Regions from separate parts of the Homo sapiens genome. Here all the other regions are linked to region 1. Evidence: fine-mapped expression QTL. A gene starts in region 1. Each other region holds a variant in brackets. All regions are shown on one strand. Distances are from middle to middle.

Region 1 (5,904 bases):
TGAACCTGAGAGGCGGAGGTTGCAGTGAGCCGATATCGCACCACTGCACTCCAGCCTGGGGAAGAAGCAAGACTTCATCTCAAAATAAATAAATAAATATAATAATAAAAATTATCCATGTGTAGTGGTACACACCTGTACTCCCAGCTACTCAGCAGGCTGAGGTGGGAGGATCACTTGAGTCTGGGAGGTCAAGGCTGCAGTGAGCCATGATGGTGCCATTGCACTCCTGCCTGGGTGACAGAGTGAAACCCTATCTGCCCCACTCCCAGGAAAAAAAAAAACCTACAGTTAGATAGAAGAAATAAGTTCTAATGTTTCATAGTAGACTAGGGTGACTATACTTAGCAATAATATTATGTATATTTCAGAGTAACTAAGACCGGGCATGGTGGCTCATGCCTGTAATCCCAGCACTTAGGGAGGCCGAGGCAGGTGGATCACAAGGTCAGGAGTTCAAGACCAGCCTGGCCAACATGGCAAAACCCTGTCTCTACTAAAAATACAAAAACTAGCCATGTGGCGTGTGCCTGTAATCCCAGCTACTTGGGAGGCTGAGGCAGGAAACTTGCTTGAACCCAGAGGGCAGAGGTTGCAGTGAGCCGAGTTCGTGCCACTGCACTCCAGCCCGGCAACAGAGCAAGACTCCACCTCAAAAAAAAAAAAAACACACACACACACACACATATATATAGAGAGAGAGACTCAAATAAAATGGATTAAAGTTAAAATAAATAAATAAATAACAAATATAACCAGAGCACAAGATCATAAGACATGCTTCAAACTGAGAAAGAAACCAAAACAAAACACACAGAGATAAGGAACTGAGAGGAAACAAAGCAACACAGGAAATAAAAGAAAAACCTGAAAGAACTGTAATTAACATCCTTAAAGACATAAAACATTGTGTGTGTAAAACAGGAACAGGAGGTGATTAAAAAAATGAGAATTAGAAAGAACTTTCAGAAATTAAAAACAGCAAAGCCGAATGTTTAAAAATTTACTAGCAATATTAAAAATGAAGTTAAAGAAAATATTTTTAAAAGTAAAGCAAAATAGGAGAAAAGAAAATGAGATGATTATTGGTTGAAGAAATCCAACACCCAAATAACAGACATTTCAGAAGGAAAAAGAAAAAAAAAACAGGTGAAGGAAATAAGCCAATAAGGAATACAAGAAATTGCCCCAGAACTGACAGTCTTTAGATTGAGTACCTTGCACAGCACAGTCAATCATTCTGTGGCCACACCAAGGTACAGCATCTTGGTATTTCAGAGCATTAGCATTAGAAAGGATTATCAAAACTTGCAGAGAGCAGCCAGTTCAGGGTGGCAACGAGCAGGGACTGAAGGAAGGAAATGTATTCAGCATCTCCTCACACAAGGCTCTATGCTGCTCCTTTACCTGGGTTATCTATTTGAATTACATTTAAGAAGGGGCAGTGGCTCATGCCTATAATCCCAGCACTTTGGGAGGCTGAGGTGGGCAGATCACTGGTGCCCAGGAGTTCGATACCAGCCTGGGCAACATAGCAAAACCAAAATACAAAAATTAGCCAGGCGTGGTGTATTGAACCTGTAGTCCCAGCTATTCATGAGGCTGAGGCATGAGAAGTTCTTGAACCTGGGAGGCGGAGGTTTCAGTGAGCCTAGATTGCACCACTGCACTCCAGCCTGGGTGACAGAGCAAGACTCTGTCTCAAAAATAAATACGTAAATAAAATTTTTAAAATGAAAATAAAACGATTGTTTCTCTACACTTGAAAGTATGATACAGCATACTGGAACATGTCAAGACTGTAAATTAGGAGACCTTAGGAACAGCCTCAAATTAGTATCATTCTAACTGTGCAACCTTGGGCAAATCACTAACGTCTCCAGATCTCAGTGTCCTCACCTACAAAAAAGGTAACTTGGACAAGATCAGTGGTTTTCCAAGTGCAGCATGAATATCATCAGTGGCATAAATACAATCTTAGGTGGCTCACAAATGGATAGGGGTTATGTTGACAGATAGGTAATTTTAAAACATGTATTAGCACATCAAACCCATGATATCGTAACTATTATTGTTTTTGTTGAAAAATTTTTAAGTTAAAGAAAAATATTAAGTAAATAGAGGTGCAAGGATATGACAAAAATGGAAAGTTTGCTACTCATTAAATCATTTTAATATCCAAGATTCTTCCCAGCTCAGTTATTCTGTAGTACATCAGATAGCAAAGAAAATTTTAAGAAGGAACTAGTATCAGCAATATGCAGTTATGGCAGAAGCTGTACCCCCAAAATCAGAGTGCTGGACGTCAGCAGAACCCCTTTAACTTCATTAAGTCCTTGACTCTCTTTTTTGACCACGGTGTTTGCCTGCTACTAAAATCTCTAGGGCAGGAGCACGGTGACTTCTATGTCACCATCCCACCTACCCCATGCCACATTCTCCATCAACAGCCCCGCCCCTTGTCCCTGTCTCCCTGGTGACACATAACAAAGGCCATCAAGCTCCCAAATCTTCAACTCCATCCTCTCCAAGAAGGACCCCAAAAGCATTTGTGTCCCAGCAACTGTGAACTTTTCCAGGCTGCCAGACAGAAGTTTATCTAATGGTGGTCAAGACCTGCCTGGTTGAATACTAGTAAAAACAATCCTTATTCACAATTTATTGCTATATCTACTTCATCTTCTCTCCTCCACAAGATTTTCCTTTTACTTTTAAAAGAGGATGCATGAAAACTTCATAAAGTAGTTTGCTTCCAGACTAAGAAGAAAGGAGGCTGGGTGTGGTGGCTCTGCCTGTGATCCCAGCCCTTTGGAAGGCCGAGGCAGGCAGATCACCTGACGTCAGTCGTTCAAGACCAGCCTGGCCAACACGGTGAAACCCCGTCTCTACTAAAAATACAAAAATTAGCCGGGCGTGGTGGTGGGTGCCTGTAATCACAGCTATTAGGGAGGCTGAGGCACAAGAATGGCTTGAACTCGAGAGGCAGAAGTTGCAGAGAGCCGAGATCGTGCCACCACACTCCAGCCTGGTGACAGTGGAGTAGGCCACATGCATCTGTGGTCCTGAGTAAATGCCCTTGGGCCCATTTTCAAAAGCCTGTTGGGAGAAAGCCTGTTACTCCTCCACTGAGAGTCTCAGACCCAGCTCAGATGGAGACAGGGAGAGGTGCAGGTGGATCAAGCCCAAGCTCCGGACTTCCCAGCTACCTCCTGAACCTCATCATCCCACAGCTCCCAAAGGACCCCAGTTACCTCGGAACAGCTCCAGAAACTGAGGGCTGTTTGCTCAGCGCCCCAGCATCTGTGCAGAGCACCGGAAAAGCTCACCAACTGTTTCACTTCCTGTTGGGGTAGGTTTTATTTCCCTCCAGTGTGCACCAGGGATCCAACTAGAGGCCGGGGAGAGGGGCTCTGCAGTGCTGAGGCAGCCAGAGTGGCAAGTGTGTGGCTTACATGCATGCTTGCTGTGTGCATCTGAGTTTGATGTGGGGGGCTTGTGCGCATGTTCATGTGGGTGTTTGTGTGTTCGTGTGTGTTTCGGTTTATGTGCATGTGGGGTTTGTTTTTTTTTTTTTTTTTTTTTTTTTGTAGACAGAGTTTCACTCTTGTTGCCCAAGCTGGAGTGCAATGGCGCAATCTCAGCTCACTGCAGCCTCCGCCTCCCGGGTTCAAGCAGTTCTCCTGCCTCAGCCTCCCGAGTAGCTGGGATTGCAGGCGTGCGCCACCATGCCCCACTGATTTTTTGTATTTTTAGTAGAAATGGGGTTTCACCATGTTGGTCAGGCTGCTCTCGAACTCCTGACCTCAGGTGATCCGCCCACCTCGGCCTCCCAAAGTGCTGGAATTACAGGCGTGAGCCACCATGCCCGGCCGCATGTGGGTTTATTTGTGTTGGAGGGAGGGTGTGTGTGTGTTTGTGTGTACTGTGTCTTTGAAAGGTCCACAGCATGTTGGTTTTGGAAACAAGCACCGCAAAGAGGCACTCCAAAATCTGTTCATGAACTCTGGGAAGTTCTCCTTCCTCAAAATGTGATTGTGGACTGTGGGGCAACCCATTAGACAGAGAGTAAAAAGTAGCTATAATAAAATATATGTTTTAGGGGGGAAATCAGGGATGCGGGGACAGGACAGTAGAGGGGGCAGGAGGTAGGAGACAAGAGCTGGGGTGTGAAGAGGACCAGCAAGAACAACGCTCCAAGGGACAAGTGGAGCAGACAAGGCTCCTGTACCCAGGACGGTCAGAGTCAGACCTCGCTTTGTAGCTGGCCTTAGCACTGTAGCAGTGGGGCCTCGACCAAGTTGTTTCAACTCTCTATACTTCAGTTTCCTCATCTGAAAATGTGGATAATAAAAGCACCCACCACAGAGGGTCCATTGTCAGAATTAAAGGAAAAACACATGCAAAGTACCTGCCACATAGAAAGCTCTTGATAAATATTAGCCATGACTATTCTTAGAAGTAACTATTGGGATGCCTCATCCAAGCCAATTAGAAATGCAGACATGGGAGGCTACACCAGGGACCTCCATGTCACATGCATGGTCTAAAGACTCGATTGCACCCCACTCCTCCCCAGTCCCACTCAAATCTACCCCCAAGACCCCAAATCTACCCCCAAAAGCCCACGGCAGTTTCAGTTCTGCAGCTCCCATACATCTGGAGCCTTGATGCTCCTTTTTGTCATTTTCTCCAAAAAGTACCAAGGTCATTCATTTAATAAACAGGAAGAAATCCCAAAGTGAAAACACAGAGGGGTCAGGGATTCCCTCATCAAGAGTTCAAGACTAGGCTGGGCTCAGTGGTGCATGCCTGTAATCCCAGCACTTTGGGAGGCCGAGGCAGGTGGATCACAATGGAAGGGGTTCGAGACCAGCCCCTACTAAAATACAAAAATTAGGTGTGGTGGTGCGCACCTGTAATCCCAGCTACTTGGGAGGCTGAGGCAGGAGAATTGCTTGAACCCTGGAGGTGGAGGTTGCAGTGAGCTGAGATTGCACCATTGCACTCCAGTCTGGATGACAGAGTGAGATTTTGTCTCAAAAAAAAAAAAAAGAGTTTAACACTAATTTTTTGAAAGTTAGAGGAAGCAGAATGCACCGCAAGTAATAAGGAGAAACAAGATTGATTCCAGCGCCGCACAAAGGGAAACCACCAATTCTGAAAGTAAATCATGTGAAGGGTTTTTTGTGGGTTTTTTTTATACTTTAAGTTCTAGGGTACATGTGCACAATGTGCAGGTTTGATACATAGGTATACCTGTGCCATGTTGGTTTGCTGCACCCATCAACACATCATTTACATTAGGTATTTCTCCTAATGCTATCCCTCCCCCAGCCCCGACCCCCCCGACAGGCCCTGGTGTGTGATGTTCCCCTTGAAGGGTTTTTTTAAAGACCAGGTCAAAGCTAAAGATCAAGCTTTTCTTTCCAAACGCTTTAGCTAAAAGTAGGAGCTAATTTTCACATCTCCGAAGGTGGCTCCAGGACTCCAAGTCACACCTTGGCAAGGGTGTGGCAGCTGGCAGAGGACTGCAGGTCCTTGTCAGGCAGAACCTGCCGGGTTCTGGGGAGTGGAGACTCAGATCTTGAGGTGGAAGCAGAGACAAGAGCTGGGCACACTTACCTGGATGTGGGGTTGGGAGCGGTGAATCAGAGCCCAGTTAGATCCTGGAGGCTGGCAGCAGGCTCTGCAGAGGTGCAGGGGCACCTCATTCAGAAGGGGCCATTTATTGGCCCTCTGTGGCTAAAACCAGCTCCAAGCAGGACTTTTTATGGCTGGAGTCGCCTCCAAAGGGGCGTCGGCCTCCACTCAGGTGTGACTCTGAGCGTTGCCTAGCTGAAAAGGCGTGATGATAGGGAGCACACGTGAGGCCATTCGGGAAGAATATTTTGCCAAGTGCAGAGG
Region 2 (5,904 bases), 44 kb before region 1:
TGTTTTGGAAGGCTGGGTCCCACCCCTTCCCGGCGGAGGAAGAGGCTATTGGCTAAAAAGCCTGGACAAATTCAAAACCAGCAGCTCGGCCCCGGTTTTTTCGGAGCACAGCCAAACCCAAATCACACCTCTGCACCTACCTAGCTCCAGAGATCTAGACAGCATTTACAGCCCCCAAATGTTATTTTTACACCCTTTCCAGGCAGGGAAGGACAGAGGAGGGTAAGCTATTTTTAGGATGACTGCTATTTAAAGTAACATACTGGCCTGGCAAGGTGGCTCTGGCCTGTAATCCCAGTGCCTTGGGAGATACAGGCAGGAGAATCACGTGAGGCCATGAGTTCAATACTATCCTGGGCAACAAAAGGAGACCCCCATCTCTATTAAACAGCCGGGCGTGGTGGTGCGCGTCTGTCGTCCCAACTACTGGAGAGGCAGGCTGAGGCGGGAGGGTCCCTTGAGCCCAGGAGTTCAAGATTATAGTGAGCTATGATCACAGCACTGCCCTCCAGGCTGGGCAGTGAGACCCTGTCTCAAAACAATAAATTAAGTAACCTAGACTATGTATGTGAAAATAATATTTCCAACCCTAGCATGCTGACTTCATCTGAGCTTACAGATGCATTTTCATACAGTCCTCCCCAAGGGATCAGTTCCTGTGAGAGCCAAGGATGGCACCACTCATTGAAATCCTGACCATGGGAAGGCGTCATTTGGGATTCCGGAATGGGTGGCTGAAGCAGTTTACAGAATCGCGTTCTGGTGAGCTTTAAGAATGGAACAGGCGCCGGGTGCGGTGGCTCACGGCTGTAATCCCAGCACTTTGGGAGGCCGAGGCAGCCAGATCACTTGAGGTCAGGAGGTCGAGATCAGCCTGGCCAACATGGTGAAGCCCCGACTTTACTAAAAATACAAAAATTAGCCAGGTGTGATGGCGCGTGCCTGTAATCCCAGCTACTAGGGAGGCTGAGGCAGGAGAATCACTTGAACTGGGATGGTGGAGGTTGCAGTGAGCCGAGATCATGCTACTACACTCCAGCCTGGGCGACAGAGTGAGACTCAGTCTCAAAAAAAAAGAAAATAAAAAGAAACAGGGACATCTTCCTGAGGAAGTCTCGGGCTGCTCTTCCTGAAGGTGAGGCTGGTTGCATAGTCTTTCAAGGTCCCTCACAAGCTGAGGCTCCTGTAAGTTTTCTCTTTTCAGCTAGTCTTTTCAAACGAACACACCTCCACCTCGCTTTCCTCCTTCCAAATGAAGAGCTGATCTAGAGCAGGCGCAGATCCAGATTTTGGGGCAGTCCTGAGGTTTATACATATTTGAAGGGTCTTCTTAAGGAAAAAAGAATAAAATCTGACTAACACACATTTCCTCTGAAATGGCAGCTTCGGGAGCACTGCTAAGGTAGCCGAGCCCTCCATTCCAGTGGCCACTTCCAGTCTAACAATTCCACCGTTTTCTCTTCTTTTTTCAACTCTTTCCATTCCAGTGGCCACTTCCAGTCTAACAATTCCATCGTTTTCTCTTCTTTTTTCAACTCTTTCCATTCCAGTGGCCACTTCCAGTCTAACAATTCCATCGTTTTCTCTTCTTTTTTCAACTCTTTCCCTCTTCCTGCCCATTTTTTTTATTTGTTTTGTTTTGGATGCTTGTTTGTTTGTTTTTGAGACAGAGTCTCGCCCAGGCTGGAGTGCAGTGGCATGATCTTGGCTCACTGCAACCTCCGCCTCCTGTGTTTAAGCGATTCTCCTGCCTCAGCCTCTTGAGTAGCTGGGATTACAGGTGCCCACCACCATGTCTGGCTAATTTTTTTTATTTTTAGTAGGGACGGGGTTTCACCATGTTGGCCAGGCTGGTTTCGAACTCTTGACCTCAAGTGATCCACCCGCCTCAGCCTCTCAAAGTGCTAGGATTGCAGGGATGAGCTACCATGCCTGGCCATAATATTCCCATTTTAATATGCATAAATTGTATTTCTGTGTCTACACACACACACACACACACACACACACACTCCAGTAACAATGAGCACATCTAGTGCCTAGATCAGGGCTACTAAATATTATTCTCTACTGAAAGGAACAGAGCTCCCTGGAGAAATGGCTGAGCTCAGGCATGACACAGGGAAAGTACAAAATGAAGGTAGAACATTTTATTGCGTAAGGAAGAATGGCCAGATGCAGTGGTTCACACCTATAATCCCAGCACTTTGGGAGGCTGAGGTGGGCAGATTGCTTGAGCTCAGGAGTTTGAGACCAGCCTGGGCAACATGGCAAAACCCCATCTCTACAAAAAATACAAAAATTAGCCAGACGTGGTGGTACGTGCTTGTAGTCCCAACTACTAGGGAGGGTGAGGTAGGAGGATCTCTTGAGCCTGTGGGGTCAAGGCTGCAATAAGCTGTGATGGTGCCACTGTACTCCAGCCTGGGGGATGGAGCAAGACCCTGTCA[CAA/C]AAAAAAAAAAAAAAAGGAAAAAGTAAGAAAGTTCTCAATTATAGAACTTTATCAGCAGCCAACTTAACAGGGCTCCCATGGCCAGATCTGGAATAGTGTAAGCATCACAATAAATAGTGCTAGTAATGGATTATAGCTCATTGAATACAACCTGAATCCCTGAGTCGTACAGCTAGAAGGAAAAAAGGGGCCGGGCACAGTGGCTCACGCCTATAATCCCAGCACTTTGGGAGGCCGAGGCGTGCGGATCGCCTGAGGTCAGGAGTTCGAGACCAGCCTGGCCAACATGGTGAAACCCTATCTCTACCAAAAATACAAAAATTAGCTAGGCGTGGTGGTAGGCGCCTGAAGTCTCAGCTACTTGGGAGGCTGACGCAGGAGAATCACTTGAACCTGGGAGGTGGAGGTTGCAGTGAGCCGAGACTGCACCATTGCACTCTAGCTTGGGCAACAAGAGCAAAACTCTGTCTCAAAAAAAAAAAAAAGGAAAAAAGGAAGCTGGGAGGGAAGGAATTGTTCTTCCTTGCAGCAAAATGGCAACTAATATGGAAGAAATGGTAGAATTAGAAAATCACCATTTTGGCCAGGCACAGTGGATCACGCCTATAATCCCAATGCTTTGGGAGGCTGAGGTGAGAGGATTGCTTGAGCCCAGGTGTTTGAGCCATATTGGGCAACATAGTGAGACTTTGTTTGTATCAAAAAAAAAGTTTTAATTAGCTGGTTGCGGTGATGCATACCTGTAGTCCCAGCTACTTGAGACGCTGAGGCTGGAGGATTTCTTGAGCCCAACAGGTCAAAGCTGCAGTGAGTCGTGATCATACCACTGCACTCTAGCCTGGGTGACAGAGCGAGACCCAGAAAAAGAAAAAAAAAAAAAAAAAAAGAAGGAAGGAAGGAAAAAAAAATCACCATTTGATGGTTGTATTTTCCAAAATATTTTCCAACGACTTCTCTTATCCTATATATTCTTTTTTATAATGTGACTTTGACAATCTTCTATCAAAAGTTGGGATCTCTGTCTCCTCCGCTTAAAACCAGGAGGTGTTTTTTGTTACTGTTGGGACCAACGAAGTATGGCAGAAATAATGCCATGTGACTTCCAGAATCTTCCATTTATTCCGTGGAATACTTACCCCAGAAGTTGAGGCCAATGGGAAGAAGCCCAAACTAGCCATAGGAGAGCACCAGCTGAGCCCTGGGGCTGTGCAGAGAGGTGACCCCTGGCGGCCCGTCAGCTCCAGCTCTGCCTCCACTGTGACAAGGACCTCATGAGAGACCCAGAGCAGAACTGTCCAGCTGGGCTCTGCCCAAACCCCTGACCCACAGACACTGGGAGAGATCATAAATTTGTTTGTTTGTTTTGGGTTTGGTTTTGAAATGGAGTTTCACTCTTGTTGTCCAGGCTGGAGTGCAATGGCACCATCTCGGCTCACTGCAACCTCCGCCTCCCGGGTTCAAGCTATTCTCCTGCCTCAGCCTCCCAAGTAGCTAGGATTACAGGCGTGCGCCACCATGCCTGGCTAATCTTGTATTTTTAGTAGAGACGGGGTTTCCCCATGTTGGTCAGGCTGGTCTCAAACTTCTGACCTCAGGTGATCCGCCCGCCTCGGCCTCCCAAAGTGCTGGGATTAAAGATGTGAGCCACCACGCCTGGCCCCATAAATTTTTATTTTTGTTTCAAACCACTACGTTTTGGGATAATTTGCTACACAGCAATAAACGGAACAGCAACCATGATAGTAATAGCAGATTTAGACAAAAGTCCTCAGTGGATGCAAGCACTAATGGGTAAAGTTTTAAGGAGGAGTGAAGACTTTTACATAAAGTGTCTCCTCTCCAAATATGTGTTAATTACTAAGGGAAAAATGGTAACTTCGCAATGGCAAATTCTGGCAGAAATCAACTTAAGCGATCAAAGTCAGTATCATATTGAGACAAATTAACATTGTATGCATCAGTATGCTGGCAAATGTGTAACAGCTGGCTGGTGGGGACATGGATTTGTAACATTTGCTGATTTTTGTGGCACAAAAACTCCCACAAGCCTGGTGTCGTGGCTCATGCCTGTAATCCCAGCACTTTGGGAAGCCGAGGCGGGAGGATGGATTGAGGCCAGGAGTTTGAGACAGGCTAGACAGTATAGCATGATCCCATCTCTACAAAAAGTAAAAAGAAAGAAAACTTAGCCGAGGTGGCGGTGCACGCCTGTAGTCCCAACTACTTTGGATGCTGGGCAGGAGGATTGCTTGAGCCCAGGAGGTAGTGGCTACAATGAACAGCGATCCTGCCACTGCACTCTAGCCTAGGCAATGGAGTGAGACCCCTGTCTCAAAAAAAAAAAAAAAAAAATTCCCATCAAGACCAATTCCAGACTCCTAAAGGTTTAACAACAAGCTGGAAGTATAACACTTGGCCCCATTCATGTGCCCCTGGTGTGTACACTGAGAAGGACAAAGCCTCGCTGCCAAGGTGCTCCTCTCAAAAAGGTATCCCCTGAGCCTCTTCCTAGGGAAACATTAGATGAACCTGAAATGAGGGATAGTCTATGAAGTAACTGGCCTGTACTCTTCAAAAATGAGGTTCCAAAACACAAAGGAAGACTAAGAAGCTATTTCAGACTGAAAGAGACTAGAGAGTTGACAGCTAAATGTAACTTGTGATCCTGGATTGGGTTCTGGACCAAGAACAAAACAAAACAAAGCTCAGCAGGGCCAGAGCCAGATACTAGCGTCTTTTCAATGTTAATACTTTTCTGATTTGATTGGATGTACTGTGGCTCCATAGGAGAATGTCACTGTCTTTAGGAAATGTGCACTGGAGAATCTAGGAATAAAAGGCATAATATCTGCAACTTAGTCTCGAGTGGTTAAAAAAAATAGGATATATAGAGAGAGCAATTAGAAACAGAGAAAGAATGATATATGGAATCAAATGTTGTAAAATGTTAATAACTGGGGGAACCTGGGCAAAGAGAATGTTAGAGGTTTGTGTTGTTGTTGTTGTTATTTTTGTTTGTTTTTTTGAGACAGGGTCTCGCTTTATTGGCCAGGCTGGAGTGGAGTGGTGTGATCTCAGTTCACTACAACCTCCTCTTCCTGGGCTCAAGCAATCCTCCCACCTCAGCCTTCTGAATAGCTAGGACCACAGGCACACCCCACCATGCCCAGCTAATTTTTGTATTTTTAGTAGAGATGAGGTCTGGCCATGTTGCCCAAGCTGGTCTCAAACTCCTGGGCTCAAGCAATCCACTCGCCTCGGCCTCTCAAAGTGCTGGGATGACAGGCGTGACCCCCTGTGCCTGGCCTGGTAAGAGTTTTTTGTACTATTCTTGCAACTTTTTGAAATTATTTCAAAATGATCAGATAAATGCTCCATGGACATTTAGTTCAATAGGACTAGGCCTATGCAATGAGGAATAAAGTCAAGAAGGAAGAACTAACAAGCTTTG
Region 3 (5,380 bases), 23 kb after region 1:
AGCACAGAGAACTTTGTAGATCTAATTAAGGTCATGGACCTTTAAATGAGGAGATTAGCCGGAATTATCCAGGTGAACCCAATCTAATCCCATGATCCCTTAAAAGCACAGAGCTGTATATGGCTGGAGCCTGAGAGATTCAACATAAAAAGCCAGAGATTTGAAGGGTGGGAGGGACTCACGGCTGACAGAAAGCATGTCAGGGAGAGCAGGCACCCTCCAGGAGCAGAGACTTTTCCCCAGCTGACAGCCAGCAAGGAAAGAGGGGTCCCAGTCCCACAACCTCCAGGAGCTGACGTTAGCCCACAACCTGCATGAGTGTAGGAGAAGACTCCTCCAGAGCCTCCGGTCAGGAATGCAGCCCTGCCAGCACCTTGATCTCAGCCTGCAAGATCTTAAACAGAGAACTCAGCTGAGCCTCCCTGGACTTCTTATTTTTTAATTTAGAGACAGGGCCTTGCTCTGCCCCACCAGGCTGGAGTGCAATGGTGCAAACATTCATAGCTCACTGGAGCCTGGACCTCTCAGGCTGAAGGGATCCCCTCACCTCAGTCTCCCTCCTGAGCAGCTGGGACCACAGGCACGTGCCACCATGCCTGGCTAATTTTTGAAAAAATTTTTTGTAGAAATGAGGTCTCGCTATGTTGCCTAGGCTGATCTTGAACTCCTGGGCTCAAGCGATCCTCCTGCCTTGGCCTCCCAAAGTGCTGGGATTGCCGGCATGAGCCACTGCACCTGCTTTATTGTGATTTATTCTCTACAGTATTTTGTTAGAGTTTGGCTGGGTGTGGTGGCTAACACCTCTAATCCCAGCACTTTGGGAGGCGGGAGGATCACTTGAGCCCAGGAGGTCAACGCTACAGTGAGCTATGATTGTGCCACTGCACTCCAGCCTGGGCAACAGAGCAAGCCCTTGTCTCAAAGAAAGAATAAATCACACTGGATTAAAAAAAAATTTTCAAACATGAGTCAAGAAGCAGCCTGTGAAATATCAGGCTCAGCCCCAACTACATTTCAGGGCTAACTAGGCCCAGAGACCCACTGTTGGTGCTATTTCGTCAGCTCTTATCCAGGACCCTGATCCAGGCTCTCCTCAACATTCGCAAGAGAGTGTTTGAGAAAGAATGGTTAAAAGCAAGTGTTCAGTCGCACACACTCAGAGAGATGGCACAGTTTGTAATCCTAGCTCTGTGGGTCTCAGAGTATGGCCCCTGGCCAGACTCAGCAGCCTCACCTTCCCAGACCTCCCGACTCAGAAACTCCAGGGCGGGGACTCAGGAATCTGCTTTAACCACCCCTCCAGTGATCCTCGTGCATGGTCAAGTTTGAGAAGCATTGTATATCCTAGCTGAATCTTTCTTTAGGATGGATATCTTCCTTGAGGATGGATAATGCCATCTTTCTAGGATGAGTGATGGAGCTGCAGAGGCATTTCAGAAGGTCGGTCACTAGGTTTCAAGGGCTTAAGGTGACACAGAAACTGCAGTGTTGTAGAAGCAAACCAAGGACAACAGTGCACCCAGCTAGGTTAGATCAAAGTGGCGGGTAGCGAAGGGGAGTGGCAGCCTCCCTTTCACAGAAGGTTTGCTATCACACCCCACCCGCAGACAAAGCCCCCTGGGTATCACACTGAGGGGCCATGCACGGAAGGTGGGCACCATGCAATGAGGCAATCCACACCAGCCTCAAAGGTGCTACTCTCTGCTAGTCAAAGTCTACCTAGAAGACACTTCCAGACAAAGGCCAGCCTCAGTAACCAAGACGTGCCTGCAATGATTAACTGAACAGTTTTTTAAAACCTGGAAGGTGTTTGTGTGCTCAGATCACATCCTACGTGGTTGGGCAAAAGCTGGCAAAGTGTGACACATAGCTGACACTGGAAAACGGGAATCCAGGTGAAAAACAGTTTTCTAGGTGCAGGTAGGAGAAAGGGGGCAAACAAAATCTGACAGATACACGAGAGAGAACTCCAGGGTGTTGGCCAGGCGCAGTGGCTCACGCCTGTAATCCCAGCACTTTGGGAGGCTGAGGCGGGCAAATCATGAGGTCAGGAATTTGAGACCAGCCTGGCCTACATGGTGAAACTCTGTCTCTACTAAAAATACAAAAAAATTAGCTGGACATGGTGGCGGGCGCCTGTAATCCCAGCTACTTCAGAGGCTGAGGCAGGAGTATCGCTTGAACCTGGGAGGTGGAGGTTGCAGTGAACTGAGATCATGCCACCACACTCCAGCCCGGGCAACAGAGTGAGACTCTGTCTCAAAAGAAAAAAAAAAAAGAACTCCAGGGCATAAACTGCATGGGAGTCCCCTACCCTCTGCCCCTTGGGCCCAGGTCTCTCAATTCCATACACTCAGAGTTGGATCTCTTAAACAAACAGGCAATTGCCCAGATGGCCCGACCAGGCCTCCACTCATTGGTTTCTTTCTGGTCCTCTGACTGTTGTGCCTCGCCTGTCTTTCTCCCAGACGTTGTTGGAATTCCCACCTCCACATGCCCACCCCTAGATCCAGCTTCCTGGCTGGTGCCTGGGAGCGTGGCTTCTGCCCGCCCACTGGCCTGGCCTCAGAGGTCTGCCCTACCCTGACGCTAGCAACTGCTCAGACTAGGCAGCCCGTGGATGGAACTGCCTGATGCTGTCCTCCCATGCAAAGAGAATGGAGCCCTGGAAGAAGGCTCTCTGGAGTCACCCCAACAAAACACCATGTGAGCCTTGCACTTCCTTGCAGTGTGGCAGGGCACATCTCACATGGGTGCTTGCAGGGATGTGGAGGTGGGAATGTGAGAGGGTGGGGAGGGGTGTGGAGTGGCCAGGATCCAGGGGAGAATGCCCCACGGAGACAGAGACCCTTGGCTTGGTATGAAGGGAGCACAAGAAGGAGTAAATCCAGGACACGGCTAGACTGTGGCACCCCTGTGGGAGTGCCCGCACTTAGGGACACATGACCTTGGGGGAATTCTGGACAGCTTAGAGGCTTACTCCATGACAGAAGATACTTCCCTTCTGGAGACCTCAACTTCTCTCTGTGTTAGTTGGCTGAGGCTGCCATCACACAATATCACAATCTTGGTGACTCAAAAAACAGAAACTTATTTCCTCACAGTTCC[C/G]TGGGCTGGAAGTCCAAGATCAAAGTGTTGACAAGCTTGGTTTCTTCTGAGGCCTCAGTGTGCCAACAAGGACCCTTGCTGTCTCTTCCCACTCCGAATTTCCTGTTCCTATAAGGACGCCAGTCAGATTAGATTAGGCCCACCCTAAGGGCCTCCTTTTAATTTAATCACCTCTTTAAAGGTCCTATCTCCAAGTACAGTCACCTTTTGAGGTACTGAGCATTAAGGCTTCAACACACGAGTTTTGGGCCAGGAGTGGTGGCTCACAACTATAACCCCAACACATTGGGAGGCTGAGATGGGAGGATCCCTTGAGCCCAGGAGGTCGAGGCTCAGTGAGCTATGATCGTGTCACTGCACTCCAGCCTGGGCAACAGAGCAAGACTCTGTCTCAAAACAAAACAAAACAAAACAAAACAAACCCATGAATTTTGGGGGAGACACCACTCAGCCAGCAACACTGTAAGTATGGAATACTAATACCAACCTATTTCACTAGTTGAGGGAAGTGATTTCAGAAGAGGGGGCTGAGATTTGTCATAATCAGCAGACCAAGTTTAGATGTAAGTACCTCCTGCAAAATTTCAGAAAGATCTGTCTTGTCCTTTGTCAACAGAAAAAATCACTCCTTCATGCAAGCATTTATTGAGTGCCTCTCTGTGCCAAGTTGGCTCACTGCAATGCAGATATTATCTGATCTAATCAAGGGGTATTTATTGAGTGGCGTTGGAGGTTAAAGGAGTATCAAACAAACTTGATCCCAGTCCTGAAGGAGCTTGTAATTCTTGCTGGAAAGGCAAGACCAACTCATAGGAAACAACAGGAACAGCAGCAGGTGATATACAACTGAGTTCTAAATTGTGTGGTGCAGACTTCAATTGCTGCTGGAATTGGGAATGAGGAAGATCAATGAGGGAGCGGGTCAGCACCAGCTAAATCACTTAGACTGAGGCATTCATCAGCCTGAGCCATTGTTCACGCTGCAGACTTTCTGTTCAAAATGGTAAAAGCCAGTCCGAGGCTGGGCACGGTGGCTCACGCCTGTAATCCCAACATTTTGGGAGGCCGAGGCGGGCGGATCACATGAGGTTGGGAGTTCGAGACCAGCCTGACCAACATGGAGAAACCCTGTCTCTACTAAAAATACAAAATTAGCCGGGCGTGGTGACGCGTGCCTGTAATCCCAGCTACTCAGGAAGGCTGAGGAAGGAAAATCTCTTGAACCCAGGAGGCAGAGGTTGCAATGAGCTGAGATCACGCCATTGCACTCTAGCATGGTCAACAAGAGCTAAACTCCGTCTCAAAAAAAAAAAAAAAAAAAAGCCAGTCCAAAAGCCTCAGTCACAGGGATGACTCAGGACCTTGAGTTTCATTTCATGTTTCTAATGTCATGAGACAACCGTGGGCCTCGCCCTGCTCAGCAGAGTCCTACCCCCCACTTTCTCCACACAGCTTCCCCTACTCAGGGTACATGAAAAAGGGGTTCCCCACCACAACTCTATGGCCACACCCCAGGGGGCAAGTTCAACCAACAGGCCAGGCGAATGAGCCCCATCTGTGCCCCATTCCCACCTGATCGGACCCCACAGCCCTTTGGGAGCACTCAGATACTGGTGAGAATGCCCCTGTTTGCTTGGGGGGCCCGTGGCTACTTATTGACGGCACAGGGCATCTGTTGAGAAGATGCAGGCAGGGGAGGGAAGGAGAGAAAGACAAGAGGAGCCTATGCAATTGGCGAGAGACACAGAGGACAGAGAACATGGGGAACTGAGGACTAGAACGGATTTCTGGCCTGACCCGTTCTGGGGGACTCCTTTTAGACCAGGGGTCTGTGTTGGCCCGTGAGTGCAGCTGGGCTCTCTCCACCTCTTTTCAGCCTCCTCTGCCACTCTGAAAGGCCCCAGGTTTTATTCCCGGTTCACATTGCCGCACCCATAACCCAGGGAATGTGGCAGCCCCTGCTGGGGTTTCACAGGCGTGCAGAGGGTGCCTCTGGGTAGGGCTTCATTCCTCTATGGGCAGGAGTCCCTGGGCACTGACCACGCCCTAGTGACAGCCAGAGTGCCTTCATTCCAAGTGCTATATTAGCAGTATCTTAAAAACCTGTCTGAGCCGGGCGCGGTGGCTCACACCTGTAATCCCAGCACTTTGGGAGGCTGAGGTGGGCGGATCACGAGGTCAGGAGATCGAGACCATCCTGGCTAACACGGTGAAACCCCATCTCTACTAAAAGTGCAAAAAATTAGCTGGGCGTGGTGGCAGGCGCCTGTAG
Region 4 (5,216 bases), 23 kb before region 1:
AAAAAGAGCTCACGCCTGTAATCCCAGCACTTTGGGAGGCCGAGGCAGGAGGATCACTTGAGCCCAGGAGGTCAAGACCAGCCTGGGCAATGAGTGAGTTCCTGTCTGTAAAAAGGAATGAAAAAAAAAAAAAAAAGAAACAATAGAATAAGTGCTAAAGAGAAGCACATGACCTCTCAAAAGAAGAAGCAGTTTGTTGTGACTGGATGGGTCAGAGAAGGTTGCTAGTCCTGACCAAGGGAATGGTGGCTCCACACAGAGTCAAGAGCTGCCTGGGGGCGGGGGTTCAAGGAGCCGAGGTTGAGAGCTGCAGTGGGAGCCAGGAGCTGTCCCCTCACTAAGGGAGAAATGCCCTTCCTCCTCCCGGGAGTCGGCTCTTGCCTCTGTGGCATCTCAGGAAATGGGCCCTTGGGAGTCCACCTCCTCTGCTCATTTCCCACCAGCCCCTTGCCTCACTCCTGTCTCCCCAGCCTAGGGGCCTCCCACACCCCTCCAGGCTGCGGCCATTGTGTGTCCTTTGTCTCTGGGCAGTCCCTCAGATCCCCGCATTCCCCCAGGCCTGCAGAACAGTACTGCTGCTCTCTCATCTCCAGGGTGCTGCCCCGCTGCCTGGGCAGGCGCAGTGGGGGAGCAGGCAGTGAGGCTCTCCACTGGTCTTTGCTCTTCTGTTTCCTCTGCTGCCCCCATGAAGCCTGGCACGTCACACAGCCCCCCACAACCTGCACCTGGCCAGGCCACTCACTCTGCTCGGGCAGTTTCCCTGACTGCCTGACCTGGCACAGCCATGCTCAGGGGCTACTGAACTTTAAGGCTGCCAGAGCGTGCCAGAAGGAAGAACCTTAGGTACTGTTCATTCAGGATCTAGTATTGTCTATTATTATTATTATTTACTGAAGAGGGTCAGAATATGTCACCCAATAGGCCACTTTAGCAGAAGAAATATTTTTAGCTGAAGGCAATTAAGAAGCAGCAAATGAAGAAAGAGCTCTTTGCCCACCTCATCTGCCTAAATTTCCCTTTGTGAAGGTGTCGCCCTCCCCTCTCCCGTACCAGGAGAATCACCCTTACCACCGGAAACAGAAAGTTGTTACCAAGATGGGTCTGCACAAACCAGCCTTATAAAATTGCCCTTATCTTCCATTAGTTTCCCCCATATGTTTGCCTGCCCACAATTTACTGTCCCTAGAAGCCCAAACCCCTTTTCCTTCATCTTGTCACTTCTTCACAATTTATTACCAGTTGTTAAAATGGAATATAAGCCCTCACTCTAACTTCTTTGGTGCTTCACGTCTTTTCAAGGAAGGCCTGCATCTATCTGTGCACATAGCAAATTCTTAGGCCGGGTGTGATGGCTCATGCCTGTAATCCCAGCACTTTGGGAGGCGGAGGCAGATCACCTCGGGCAAATCACCTGAGGTCAGGAGTTGGAGACTATCCTGGCCAACATGGTGAAACCTCATCTCTACTAAAAATACAACAATTAGCCGGGCGTGGTGGTGGGCGCCTGTAATCCCAGCTACTGGGGAGGCTGAGGCAGGAGAATCGCTTGAACCCGGGAGTTGGAGGTTGCAGTGAGCTGAGATCGCGCCACTGCACTCCAGCCTGGGCGACAGAGCAAGACTCCGTCTCAAAAAAAAACAAAACAAAACAAAAAAATTTTTTTAAACTTTTATTTTGCAACAGTCTTGCCGTGTCGTCCAGGCTGGAGTGTGGTGGTGCAATCTTGGTTCACTGTCTGTTTCACTCTTATTCTCTCATGGATGTACAGTAGAATTTTCCTGAAGCTGCATCATGTGTCATATCATTCTGACCGATAATGCCAATCATGGATTATGTGTTTGTATTTAGAATAATTTCTTTCCTTTTTTTTTTTTTTTTTGAGACGGAGTCTCGCTCTGTCACCCAGGCTGGAGTGCAGTGGTGCGATCTCGGCTCACTTTAACCTCCACCTCCTGGGTTCAAGCACGACTCCCGAGTAGCTGGGATTACAGGCACATGCCACCACGCCTGGCTATTTTTTTGTATTTCTGGTAGAGACGGGGTTTCGCCATGCTGGTCAGGCTGGTCTTGAACTCCTGACCTCATGATCTGCTCGCCTCAGCCTCCCAAAGCGCTGGGATTACAGGCATGAGCCACTGCGCCCGGCAAGAAAATTTCTTAATTTTGGCTGGGTGCAATAGCTCACACCTGTAATCCCAGCACTTTGGGGGGCCAAGGCGAGTGGATCACCTGATGTCAGTTGACCAGCCTGGCCAACATGGTGAAACCCCTTCTCTACTAAAAATACAAAAATTTGCTGTAATCCCAGCTACTCGGGAGGCTGATGCAGGAGAATCACTTGAACCCAGGAAGCGGAGGTTGCAGTGAGCCAAGATTGTGTGCCAT[T/C]GTACTCCAGCCTAGGCAACAAAAGTGAAACTCCATCCCAAAAAAAAAAAAAAAAAGGAAAATTTCTTAATTTTAACATCTAATACAGGATATATCAATAGATATAATCCACATAAATAAAAGGCGTTTGAAATTAACAAAAATTTTTAAGAATATAAAGAGGTTCTGGGACCAGAAAGTTGGAGAACCACTGTGTTAACCCAACCCACAATTGTTACCTGCAGTTGTCTTGGACTCATCCAGCTGGTTCACAGCAGGGAAGAATAGGGTTCTGTCCTGACCTTGACCACCCTGTCATTACTGAGTCTCCTGCCCACACCCCCCAGCTAGATTGGAGGCTCCTCCAGGGTAGAGTCCTTGCAGTTTTACTCTCCCCACCTCCTCTCCTATGGCACCAGAGCAGGAGCTCCATAAATAAATATTAATTCAAGGAGAGTGCTGTCCACAGGAGTTTTAAAAGTACTAAGGCCCAGGCAGCAAGGGCAAATAGACAGTTGTTGGCGGAGTGGTAGGTGGAGTCATGCCAGCAGAATAGAAGGGAGACCAAAGAAATAACCTTTAAAAAATATTAACAAATGACAACTCTGCTTAAAAGAAGATCTCTGAGGCCTGGCATGGTGGCTTATGCCTGTAATCCCAGCACTTTAGGAGGCCGAGGCAGGCGAATCACCTGAGGTCAGGAGTTCAAGAGCAGCCTGGCCAACATGGCGAAACCCCGTCTCTACTAAAAATACAAAAATTAGCCGGGCATGGTGATGGGCACCTGTAATCCCAACTACTCGGGAGGCTGAGGCAGGAGAATCACTTGAACCCAGGAGGCAGAGGTTGCAGTGAGCCAAGATCGCACCACTGCACTCCAGCCTGGACGACAGATTGGTTCATGGGGAAATTTGGGAGCAGAGTGCTGTAAAGGTCATACAACTGGTTTGTATCAGAACAGAAACAAGGACTCGCAATTTCTTTTTTTCTTTCTTTCTTTTTTTTCTTTTTTTTTTTTGTCTGAGACAGGGTCTCACTCTGCGGCCCAGGCTGCAGTGCAGTGGCATGATCTTGAACAGCCTTGAATTTCCAGGCTCAGGTGATCCTCCCACCTCAGCCTCTTGAGTAACTGGGACCACAGGTGCATACCACCATACCTGGCTAATTATTTTGTTTTGTCCTGTTTTGTAGAGACAAGGGTTTTGCCATGTTGCCTAGGCTGGTCTCGAACTCCTGAGCTCAAGGGATTCACCTGCCACCATCTCCCAAAGTGCTGGGACTACAGGCATGAGCCACTGCACCTGGCCAGTACTGGCAGTTTCACTCAGCTTTCACTACCAGAGTATCATTCACTTAAGAAGTGTTGAGCTTCTACTACATGCCAGGCATATGCAGGGGGCTTTATGCCATAATCTCATTTAACCCTCAAAACTACACTATGAGGTAGGTCTCATTTTACAGATAAGGATTTTGAGGCTTTAAAAGTTTGAGAAGGCTGAGCACGGTGGCTCACGCCTATAATCCTAGCACTTTGGGAGGCCAAGGCGGGCGGATCACCTGAGGTCACGAATTCGAGACCAGCCTGACCAACATGGAGAAACCCCGTCTCTACTAAAAATAGAAAATTAGCCGGGTGTGGTGGCACATGCCTGTATTCCCAGCTACTCGGGAGGCTGAGGCAGGAGAATCGCTTGAACCCGGGAGGCGGAGGTTGCGGTGAGCCAAGATTGCACCATTGCACTCCAGTCTGGGCAACAAGAACGAAACTCCGTCTCAAAAAAAAAAAAAACAAAAAAATTGAGAAACTCAGTACCCCTGCATAATTAGTGGGGCTGGAGGCCGACCACATTTCAGAATTTTGCTTGCCCTGAGTTGTCTCCTGTCATCAGGAGGCCCCTGCCCCCTCCTGTAGAAAGGTGACAGTCACTAGAGTGACATCTCAGCCCTGGCGGCACATTGGCATCACTCAAGGAGAGGAAAAATGCCTGTGTCCCACCCCAGAGCAACCAAATCAGAATCTGTGGGGTAGAAGCTTGGTGTTTGTAATCTCCCAGGTGGTGCTAGGGTGCGATATACAGCTGGGCTGAAGATCTGCCACTGTTCCAATCGACAGACAAGTAAATAGCACAATGACAGCATAGTCGGATGAGTCCTGTCAAAAAGGGAGCAGTTAAGAGGGTGCGTGTTCTCGTAAAGCGACACCAGCAACATGACACAGGGTTCGCTTCATTCAGCAAGGAGCCAAATGGAATTTTGAATGAAAGGTCTGCTAAGAATCCAGGCAAAAGCATGGGGGCTGGGGAGCGCGGGTACAGGGAGCACTAGAAATGCTTACTGTATGAACGACAACGTCTTAGAAAACGTCTGGGAACGACTGTCACAGGTTCTCTGCCACCGACGTGTCTCCCATAAGCTCTCCCCTCCATAAGTGCCAGCAGGGCCATCCCCTGTGGATAACCCTCCGGGGTCTTGGAAGAGCCCCATGCTAAAGACTCAGGGGACCCAGTCTGGGCCTCAGACTCTGCCGTGGGGGAAGGGGCCGGAGCCCAGGAGATAAGACCCGCCTAGCGACCGTTGCTACCGGCGAGCAGCCTTTGTTACTGAGCATTAGGAACACAATGGGAGGCTCAGCGGCCAGGATAGTCCGTCCACAGCAGCCCAGGCCGGAATTAGCCTGCGACCAGGCAGGGGGAGGCGAGGGGGCTCAGCAAAAGGATTCTAGTGAAGACTGTTTTTAGTTGTTAATGTGTTGGTGGCCCCCCAACTCTGGCTAATGGGGGGCATTAAGACCTAGACTCTCCGTGGCAAAAGCCTTTGTTCCAGGGTCAGACCCGAACAAATGGGCACATCCC

What was found.
Region 2: its variant is fine-mapped to the expression of ADA2 in whole blood (INTERVAL, PIP above 0.99).
Region 3: its variant is fine-mapped to the expression of ADA2 in whole blood (TOPMed, PIP above 0.99). The same link has a PIP of 0.9 or more in blood mononuclear cells.
Region 4: its variant is fine-mapped to the expression of ADA2 in caudate (GTEx, PIP 0.95).

What each region holds. Positions count from the first base shown.
Region 1 is chr22:17,216,105-17,222,008 of GRCh38, forward strand. It overlaps ADA2 (adenosine deaminase 2), which reads right to left and starts at 3,331. Exons shown (of 10, transcript NM_001282225.2): 1 at 3,252-3,331. RefSeq lists enhancers at 2,708-3,068, 2,909-2,978, 2,989-3,118.
Region 2 is chr22:17,172,385-17,178,288 of GRCh38, forward strand. No RefSeq gene overlaps it. Among named protein-coding and RNA genes, the nearest start is that of HDHD5-AS1, 16 kb to the left of the region's middle. The variant CAA/C (reference allele first, on the strand shown) is at 2,451.
Region 3 is chr22:17,239,176-17,244,555 of GRCh38, forward strand. No RefSeq gene overlaps it. Among named protein-coding and RNA genes, the nearest start is that of ADA2, 22 kb to the left of the region's middle. RefSeq lists enhancers at 4,314-4,373, 4,394-4,653. The variant C/G (reference allele first, on the strand shown) is at 3,109.
Region 4 is chr22:17,193,900-17,199,115 of GRCh38, forward strand. The region is part of intron 4 of ADA2 (adenosine deaminase 2); the gene reads right to left. LOC107985573 (a long non-coding RNA gene) reads right to left here and starts at 4,890. Exons shown (of 2, transcript XR_001755419.2): 1 at 4,700-4,890; 2 at 4,162-4,516. RefSeq lists enhancers at 1,421-1,936, 4,487-4,991, 4,992-5,216. The variant T/C (reference allele first, on the strand shown) is at 2,386.